2 separate regions of the Homo sapiens genome follow, and region 2 is linked to region 1. Evidence: fine-mapped expression QTL. Tissue or cell type: whole blood. Region 1 holds a variant in brackets; the other region holds the start of a gene. All regions are shown on one strand. Distances are from middle to middle.

Region 1 (5,389 bases):
CAAAAAACCAAACACTGCATGTTCTCACTCATAGGTGGGAATTGAACAATGAGAACACACGGCTGTTTCTTGACACCATTGTGGTTCACCCTGGACACACCCTGCCGGCAACTCAGCAGAAAGAGATACTTCAGGAAAGAGCCCCACAGAGCTGGGAAGTGGGCTTGGGGCTTTTGGAACAGCCATCCAGAGTCCCAGGTACCCATGTCATGGTCTACAAGGTGGAGCACAGGCTCTGAGTGGCCACATGTCCTTGGCCCTGTGGGGAGTATGTGGTGAAAGGCAGCTTTAGCAGCTGCTGAGGCACAGCCCCTTCTGGTCCAGGTCTGAGTTCTATTGATAACAATGCTACCGGAGGGACAAAATTTAGGGTGTTTGACACGTAAAATACAATTAACTGTGCATGAAAGTTCTGGACCTTGACCCAGAATACTGAGAATAATATTCAGTAAATGGAAAATATGATCTTGGTACTGGAGGCATGTGACTCTGCTGCTTATTGCCAATCTTGTCTGCTCCTAGGAAGAATGGGAAGCATGTGGATTTAGTATTGATGTCTTCCCACCTCCCAACATCCCCTGTCCTGTCTCAGGAAGTGAAATCTGCTCAAACCTTGGTACAGAATTGTCACACCCAGAATTACTCTCCTCATGAAGAGATGACTGATTATTTTTTCTCTCCTCTCACCCTTACAAACTCCCTTTGTCTTGAGGAAAATGATGTCAGCTAGGTAGAAGAAAAAAGGCAAGGGTGAGAAGAGCAGTCTCCTCAGTAGAATTCTTTCAGGGGATTTTCCATTTTAAAGGTTGATATTTTCTGACAAAAATGACTCTTTCATTGATGGAGATCCAGGTATTACACCAAAGTTTGTTGAAGAGATTGCTTGTGTCATTGTATCCTATGCTTAGCTACCTCAGTTGAAATTCAGGACAGTATAACAATTACAGTTGTGTGTTTTGGAAAATATGACAAACATATATAGGGTTGCGAGGATTTATTGTTAAACTAGGACATTAAAGTACTATCATAGCACAGAGATGCTATGGAGGAGAGGATAGAAAGGCAAGATGAAAGATATATAAAAATGTATGAAATTTTTATGAAGTTATAACTTAAACAGTGAAAGAATCATTAAAATTTCTTCAGTGTAAAAAATGCATCTAAAAACTTAGATGTCTCTTCCATAGGAAAAAAAAATAGCAAGTGTTTTTTCAAACTCTTTATAGACATTTATATCTTAAGTGTCTATTCCAGATTCTCATTTGCCTTCTTTACAATCGAGGAATGACTTTTTAGAGGTACAATTAATGACCCCATTCTCTTTCACTAATATAAGAGTATAATTATTTCATTGGAAAGCACTACTATATATTATATTTCTTTCATATCTTTGTTCATGTATTAGTCTCATACAGTGCCTGCCTTATAAGATATTGTAAGAAATTATCAAGATAAATTTAATGCAGAAATAACAATGGTATATAATGTCCCTACTTATTCATTTATGCTTACATAACATTGGAGGTGCTCAAAAGGTTCCACGAGTATTGAGTCATTAAAGCTTAGTACCCCTGTGAGGTATGCTTGGTTATTATCATTATAGTTTATTAGACAGATCAAGCTTCCCCTGGAGTCCTGAAAGCTCTTACAGAAAGTGTTGGCTTTTTAATATTCTGCATCTGAGAATTACAACTCAGGTTTATGAAATTAACTCATTTTTCTTAGGATTGTCTCTTTCTTTTGAGTTATATGGTTTCACCTTCTTGTAGCATAGCAGAAACAGTGCACACCCAGCTTTTAGAAAACCTGTAGTTGAAAGGCTATTTCATCTCCTTCCAGAGATACAAAGAAGAGGCAAAATATTTGAGGGATTATAAGTAACCAGTGGGTGACATGAAAATTATTGATATATTTGCTAATATTTATTGAAAAATATACAATGTGCCAAGATTGTGCTAAATCCATTCCAGAGACCAGAGGCTTTGAAAGTCTGCATATTTTGCAAGTGCACAGCTCCATAAGTGGAAGAGCTAGTCCGGAACTCTAGCCTTTTGACTTCTAGCCCGATGCCATAGCCTCCATCCCTGAATTTCCCCAAATTTGATATGCTTGCTACCAGTGAGATAGAACTTGATTTTTCTCTGTACACAAGTATACTTTACTAGTTATATATTTCACTGCATTTTAAAATAATATTATTTCCCCACTAAACTGTGGTATGATAGATATCATTCCCTAGGAGAAAGCTAAATCAGGTAGAATTTGGGTTTAGGAAGTAAGTAGAAATGACAAAAATCACAAAGGTGGAACATTAAACTTTAAAGTCTGGAAGACCTACTATGTATCATATCACAGACTGAAGTGTATGAGGTAGTATGAAGTGAGTGTGGTTTGAATAACAAGAAGAAAGAAATAGGCTTTTAGCTCTAGCTCTAGTTTCTGTTTATTTTTGAGGAGATGAAACTGTTGAAAAATGTTTTCTTGCTTTTGCTTCTGGATATGTAAAAACTATTAAGGAAAAAAAACTTTAAAATAAGCAGCTTATCCATCATGGGGCCTTTAGATTCAAACTGATTGGTTCTGAAACCATAGTACATCCACTTACTAGTTGTGTGACCTTAGGAAAGTTAATTAACCTCTCTGAACTTCAGATTCTTTATTTATGAATGGTGATGAATGGTGTGAATGGTGATGTTATTTGTGAATGAACAGACACAATGTCTACAGAGTGCTTAACTTGTATTAGAAGGCATTCAGCAAAAGGTATCTACTGTTGTCATTTCTAGCACATTATTACCTCTTCTCTTTGAAACTTGCATCTTTGAAAGTATCATCAGTTACATCAGTCACTATAACT[G/T]TTAGCCCCTGACTCACTGTCATTCTCTTCTTTATTTCAGGTTTTGATGAGAACATGAATAGTCCTTTTAAATGTGGGCGCCTCTGTTTCTTGAACTCCCCTCTTCCCCAAAGCTTGTCTTCCACCCTAATTCAACCACTCAGTCTCATGGTCACATCCTAGACCTTGACATTGTCAGTACCTGGTATCCTCCCCAACTATAATCTCATTATCTAGTCTCCTCATCACAAAAATTTCAACATCACCTTTTTCACGAATCTGTTTTTACTGACCCTTACCTTCTTGTTGTTCCGTCTCCTTCGTTACTAGTCTGCTCAAGCTGCCATAACGAAGTGTGGTGGCTTAAATAACAGAAATGTATTTTCTCATGGTCCCAGTGGCTGGGAAGTCCAAGATCAAGAGTGCCAGCCAATTCAGGTTTTGGTGACAGCTGTCTCTTGGATTGCAGGCAGCTGCCTTCTTGCTGTGTCCTCATGTGATCTTTCCTCAGTGCAAAGATCTTTTCTGGGTGCACTGATATTTTTTTTTTTTTTTTTTGTTTTTTTTTTTTTTTTGGGTAAAGAGAGGAGAGGTCTCTCTCATACTCTATTTATAAGGCCACTAATCTCATCATGAGGGACCCACTTACATGACCCCATCTAGCTCTAATTATCTCCCTTAGGCCTTACCTCTAAATTCCATTGCACTGGGGGTTAGAGCTTCAACAAATGAGTTGCGGCAGGATATATTCACTCTGTAACACTTCTCCCTCCTAACCCAGCTTAAATTTACCAATTATAACCTCTCCAGTGCACACACCCTTGACTCATATCTCTCTTCCTTCATCATTTTCACTTTCACTTCCAGCCACATTTGGCCTCATTTAAGCCCAGAGTAGTTGGAACAAAACACACAAATATTCTGATTAGTTTCACTTTCAGTTAACAGCAATGAACTCCAGTAGATGTTTAATGCTGTTACGCACTCAGTACTTTCCTGATTCACTCAACTTTCTCATTTCTCATAGAACTTTGCTACTCCATGTGTAGCCCATGGGCCAACACTATTGATATTACCTAGATATTCTGAGAAATACAGATCTCAGACCCCATCCTAGACCTACTGAATACGAACCTGAGTTTTATCAAGATACTAGGAGATTCTTCTGCATAGTGTATTTAAGTTTGGGAAGCATCCCCTTAAAAGACTCTCTTCTCACACCTCCAAATCTCCTCTATCATCACTCTTAGCCAATGGCCTTGCTTCCTATATTTCTTAAAAACTGTAGCAATACATAAGTGGCATAGTCTTCCACCACGACTTGTACTCACTTACCACCATTCCCACTCACAACTTTTGCCTTCCCACTTGGGCCTATAAATGAGCCATCCATGTTCCCATTTGAAGTGATTGCTCCTCTGGGCTCTATATCACATCCCTCCCAGTTGGTCTAGGCTCTGCGTTAGCAATATTTCCTTCTCTTCCTTGATCATACCTACGGTCATGCAACAATGCTTTTATTTTTTCTTTTAAAATACCTTCTAATCCCATTTCCTCTGTTGCTTTCTCCTTTTATTTATCACTTTTGCAACAAAATTATTTAAATGACTTGTGTAGATCCTCTTCTGCAAATCCTTTCTTCCCATTCTCTGTTAAACCTACTTCAAATGTGTTTTGGCTCCTTTCATGTCTCCTTTTTTCGTCAATAGTTATTAAAAACTGTTCTTTTCAAAGCAAGCAATGATCTTCACATTACTAGATCCAGTGGTTGGTTCTCAGTATTCATTATACTTGATACCATCAACTACATTAGAATAAGCTGATCACTTCCTCCTCTTTAACATGCTGCCAGTATCAGATATATATTGAGCACATGTGTATTTTAAAAATTATTAATCTTCTTTGAAAGAAAATTTAGGATTCTGTCAGATTCAGCTGCATATAACAGAAATGTCAAACATAATATTTGCTTAAATGTGATAGAAGTTTCTCTTTCTTAAAAAATGTCTGAAGCTAAGAAATCTAAAACCAGTAGAGAGGCTTCACTGTGTCACAAAGACTGGGAATTCTATCATGTGCTTCATCACTTTCAGTGTTGTTTCCAAGTTTATAATTACTTCATAGTCTGAAAAACCTGTTAGAGATCCCATCATTAAGTCTGGGTTCGAGGCAACAGAGAAGATGATTGACATAAGAGCAGGCCCTTTTTCTTTCATCACTACTCATGAGTCTCATATTATGCTTCCGCCTGCATATTATTGACCTAGATTTAATCATATGCCATATCTAGCCACAAGATGAGCTACTAAAGGTAATCTTTGATTGGCAATAGGCCCACCTAAAACACAGGGTTCTAAGAAAGAAAAGGAGAATAGATGTTGTGAGACAACTAGAAGTTTCCATCCAAGGAAGTCATGACATTATCTTCATGAGAAAATGTGCTATTAGAATCATAAGAGAGTCCCAAATAGATGACTAACACATAAAGAAGCCATCACACGAAGGGCAGCTGATTTGTTAGTCATATAGCTGCTTTGTTCTTTGAGATCACAT
Region 2 (5,389 bases), 47 kb after region 1:
GTAGTTAAGACAAGGGAGGAGGATGTGGAAGCCAAGGTTCTGATTATCTAGATGATGCCTCCAGGTAGCAGGCTTCAGAGAGAATAGTTTGTAAATGTCTCTTATTACTCCTTAAAATATTCCAGGCTCTTGGTTAAATCGCTGCTGAATTAGGAAAAGATCTGGAAAGGAAAGGGGATTCTGTACAGAATGTGGATCTTCCCCACGAGAGACAGCTTTGCAAGGCCATTTCAAAGAAATATATTTTGGGGTAAGATATTTCAATTTCTCTCAGGGCCTGCTATCTGTCGAGTGATTCTATATTAGAGTCAGGTTGGGATTTGATATCTTATTGCTACAAAGAGACTCTTGTTAGTCTTCAAATCTCTGTTTTAATTGATGCTGGTCAGTTGTGCCTGAATTCCAAAGAGAGGAAGGTACAACGGGGCATGTTCAATCCCCTCCACCCACCTTTTCATCATGGCCTGAACTACCTTTTTAGGTTTACTTTGGAATGCCCTTGACAGAGAAGCGGGTTCCACTTAGTTGGGGGGCTCAGAATTTTATTTTTGGTTTACAGAACAAACATTAAGAGAATGTTCAAACTACCTTTTGGATTATACCTTTTGGATTAGGATTATATCCAATCAAAATAATGTCTGAAACAAAGGAGCCATTTACTAGAGTCCAGAAGTGTTTTTTTAAACAAATAATGTGAAATGATGTCCTATCATGCTTATGATGAGAATGGGCTTTCAAACATTAACATTTGACAAAAGTCTACACCTGCAGGTTCTCTGAAAAGAAACATGCAGGTTTCATTTTTCTTAAAATAAAATAAAAATACATTCTACCTTTTAACTAGTTAGCACTAAAGGCAAAAATTGCTTTGGGTAGACGATAACTAGGTATTTGATGTATATCACCAAGTAACTTCAAAGTAGTACGTTTCAGCCTCTGAAAATTCACGCACCTTTGTGATAAATACAATCACCACTCTTTTCCATCCTTAAATTTCTTGCTTTAAACATTTAAACACTCGCAACAACAATAAAAAGCCCCAAAATTCCAAAATCACAGTTTTTTTTTCATTCAACAGTTGACAGTTAAAATTATGAAGCCAATGTTCCAAAATATTAAATATAAGTTACCAATACAAAGCAGCAAAATTTAGAACACTAACTTCAAAAATTTTAGGATAAGAGTATCAAAATAACAATACAAATGTAAAAATCTAAGTAGAAATAAATAATTAGTACTAGTGCCTACACAAAAATAACTTCTGCAGGTAGATAATGAAGTAACTTTATACTTAAGGTCATACCCTTTTAAAGCTGAAAAGAACTTAACAGTCATATAATACACCCTGCTGGTATTTTCCTGCTTATATCCTGAGAAAAAATAAAGTGAAAAAGTAAAACTGAAAAATAACATAATTATACTCCTTCTAAATTTGATATGTCTTTTAGCGGTTCCTAAAAATAGATTACATACATTCAGACAGATAGTATTTCTTTCAAAAATTCTCACTTATTTGATTAAACAAAACAGACATTCCAAGTAAGTCAGTTCATCCTAGAGTATGAAGAAAATTTTACTTTCTAGAACTGGCATGCCTGATAGGAGCCTGCTTGGTGGGTACAATGTGTGTTGCTCCAGTGCTGGATGCACTAAGGGCTCTGACTTCACCAGGATGTTGTGTATCAATGTAGCAAATGGCACTTGTACTCCATGAATATACACAAAATAAATACAAAGATAAAAAAATAAATAAAATTCGCATGCCATCCACTTGTTGCTGTCACTCAAATAAACAGAATTTAAAAAACTATACAAATGGTATGCAAACAAATGTAAAATGAGATTTTCACTCTTTCAAAAAAAAAAAACTATGTATTTATAAAAATCACTGCCCACATCAAAAATACAAATGATTTATGACTTCTAAAAAATCATTGTCTTAATCAACACCTGTCAGCCACAGGTAGGATAGGGAAGACTTAACATCACTGTCCCCACACACTGTAACCTTGGGGTCTATGCGGAACACTAGATGAATTGGGATCATTGGGCCTTATCAGCAAGGCCTTAAGGGCACTCTTTCTGGGATCTCAGTCAACACAGCCAGGCTGTAAGCTGCATCTTAACTGGAGCGCGTTGAGAAAAAAGACACAGAAAGGCAGACTCAAGTGGCTCTCCGTTTGAGCCTGTTTTCTGTCCTAATCTAATAGCTGCCATGATCGATTCTGCTTTAGGGTAGGTGTTTGGACAAGTGCCAGACTCTGTGAGAAACTGGGAATCCCTTGCCTTCTCTACTAGATTTTCCTTAGAGAACTGACAAGTGTAACCACTTTTATTCTTGGGAGACTCAATGGTTTAAAAAAGGGGTGCTAGACCCTCTTCTGCAACCTCTGTGGGCTCAGTGTTATTTATTATAGCGGTTCCTTAGTTTACTGAAAGTCAACATGGATATCAGACTCAGTTTGGAGAGAAAAAATATATCACAGCACTCCAATTTAAATGGCTCCTGATCTTCTGTGTAGACACTGGTTTTAGTTCTAAAAGGGCTTGAGAACTAAGGAAACAAGCGCCTTTGAAAAGCTCCATAAACAACACCTAGCACAAAGCCTACTCTGTAAAGCTGCAAAATAAGATCCCGGCACCACGGCAAGAACATTCATCAACAGCAAAAGGAAGAGGGCCACCTGGCGCTCAAGGTGTGAGGGCCTAGAGGCAACCCAGAGGTAGGGCTTGGGCCGAAGCCGAGTGTTCCCTGGCTGGGCCTCATTAGAGGCGACACAGCAACTCGATCACCAGCCCTGACCGCCGCCGTACCTGCGGCTGGCCCAGCACCCCAGCGGCCTCCCCTCCTTGTCAGGCCCGGCTCAAGCCGCGGCGCAGCCGCTCAGCCTCGCTCCGGAAGGGGACCTGGGGACTGCACGTCCGGGGTCGCTCACCGGCACGCGGGGCGCTGCGCAGTCCCGGGCTGCTTCGGCGCGGACAGGGCCGAGGACAGGGTCGTGGAGTCCACAGTCCCGGGAGCCGGGGGGTGGAGCGACCGGCCTGGAGCGCGCGGCCGCCGTAGAGCTGGGACGGGGGAGGGGTAGGATAACGACGGCATCAGCAGAGGCCAAGCGCTGCTGTAACCTGCGTCCGCGCCTGCGCAGAGCGCTCCCGGAGGGACACCCCTGGCGTGCGCGTGACGCATGCGTCCTTCTTCCTCCTGTTTGAGCCCAGAGGCGTCGATCGTGTGAGATTGTGCGCTCTTCAGGTTTCATTACCTTCGCGTCCCCCAGACTTCAAAGTGTCCACTGTAGCCACGAATTACCTAGGAACAGTCGCTCCTCCTATTTCCCATATCAGACCATTTCCTTTTGCAAAGGGTATAAATGTGCACCATCTGCCTCAGCTTTCAGCTGAGCAGCCTCCTCGCTCACGCAATGCGAGTTGTCGCTGACAGTCTGGTCCTTAGGAATGGAATAAACTGGTCCGTACACACGCCGCTGACAGCAGCAAAGCTACCTCTATTTTAATTTAGAAACTGGCCAACTAGAAGGAGACAGCAAGCGGCAAGGCCGTAGTTTTTGTTTTTGCTCGGTTTCGTTTCGCTTTGCCCACGCTGCCCCTCCCCACCCCTTAACTCTGGTGCTAGTTACAGGTGTGTGAAATCCCGTCTCGGATCCCAGTACTTAAGCTCTTCGCTGTGGGTTGGGGCTGCCCTCCCCCAACGTCTAGGTCATTTCACTTAGAAGATAAGAACAACGACAAGGAGTCGTTTTGAGGGATCAATGAGATGCCGGTAATAATATTAAGGGCACTCTAGTCTCATTCCTGCGGAGAGTTTAACGTTTAATGAATGGTAGGCATTCTTACAGTCACAGGAGCAAGGAAGTGAGAGTCATATATTTCTCTCTTCTAACAGGATCAGTGTGATCCTGTTAGAATCAGGGAATTCTAACAGGAATTGGGAAATGAAGCTATGTAAAAGTAGGAAATACAAGTCAGAACGATATACAATTTAAGAGGATTACTGTAGATCCATATGTGAGATAATGAGCTTTCTCATACAATGTTGTCGGAGATTTAAAACTCCTAAGTTTTCTGGCAGACAGTCAGTATGTATCAAGACTATTAAAATGTTCACATCGTTTGGTCCAGCAATTCCACCCTTTCAGAAGTATCCTAAACCTAATGAGAACTCTAAAAAGATTTGGGTATGAGGTGTATCCATTTAAATAAACTGAATGTCCAACAAGGGACATTGATAAAATCATTATTTTTCAACCGCTTTTATTTAGCCCATATTTTCCAAAGGGAAGGGTCAGGGTGTCTTCCATTAACACTGTTTGAAATTTCAAAATTAATAGGTTGGTTAAAACAAATCAGAATCATGGGGGAAAATTTTTCTCAAAATTATTGACAGTCCACCTGTGGAGATATGATGTTCCCCTTGGAATTACTGAGTTTTTAAAATTATGGAATAGCCATCTATTGAGTTTTTATAAAGCCAGTAAAAACCATCTTATAAGGCTGTTATACGCGGAGTGATATAAAATTAAAATCAGGATGCAAAGTATAGGATATGAGGTATTGTAATAGGATGTAAACTATATTCACATATAGATAACATATAGATATAAATATATTACATATCTGCCTTGAAATGGAAAGAAATATACAAAATATAAACAGTTGCCTGTAGTTTGAGAGCATGGATGTTTTTTCTTTATTATTGTTAAATAGGCAAATGGTTCTATAATGTAATATATATTATTCTTAAGTGAAAAAGTTACTTTTTTCTTTAATTCTTAAGGGAGTATTTAGTATTTTCTCAACCTCATCATTTAACTTAAAACGTGCTGGCCATATAGCACAGTTCCTTATCCAAATTCCTGGAATTCACATAGGAATAAGTCTTCCTGGGAGAATGTTGCTGTAAGAAGCAGTTCAGTAGCAGGGTTGGGAACACAGCCTTGGGAGCCATATGGCCTGAAAATGAGCCCAGCCTGACAGAGATATACAAAATCTCTGTAAGAGTGGGCAAAATACTTAGCCTTCTTTATACCTAATTTTTATTATCTGCAAAATGAAGATAGTAATAATGTCTGTCTCAAAGGGTTATGGATGGGAGCTGATACCTGCAGAGCAATCAGTAAATATTAGATATTATGATTACAAATTTATCATCCATATAACAAGGAAGTACTTTAAAGACAGATATTGAATGTTTGGTACATTTGTTCCTATGCCTTATTTTTCATTGAAGCACATTTTGAAAGGAAAATTTTCTGAAAAGCTTCCAATTATTTGATTAACAGTGATTTCTTGAGTTCCGAGTTCAGTAGTGGTCTAGGTGCTATCAGATATAAAGGCCAGTAATTTTAACAGTCTGGGATAAGTTTGAATAGAA

Evidence for each region. PIP is the estimated chance that this variant, and not a neighbour inherited with it, causes the effect.
Region 2: TMEM106B starts here. The variant in region 1 is fine-mapped to the expression of TMEM106B in whole blood (INTERVAL, PIP above 0.99).

What each region holds. Positions count from the first base shown.
Region 1 is chr7:12,256,154-12,261,542 of GRCh38, reverse strand. No RefSeq gene overlaps it. Among named protein-coding and RNA genes, the nearest start is that of TMEM106B, 48 kb to the right of the region's middle. The variant G/T (reference allele first, on the strand shown) is at 2,858.
Region 2 is chr7:12,208,973-12,214,361 of GRCh38, reverse strand. TMEM106B (transmembrane protein 106B) reads right to left here and starts at 3,068. Exons shown (of 8, transcript NM_001134232.2): 1 at 2,937-3,068. RefSeq lists enhancers at 2,351-2,867, 3,260-3,309, 2,868-3,386, 3,520-3,669 and a silencer at 2,770-3,079.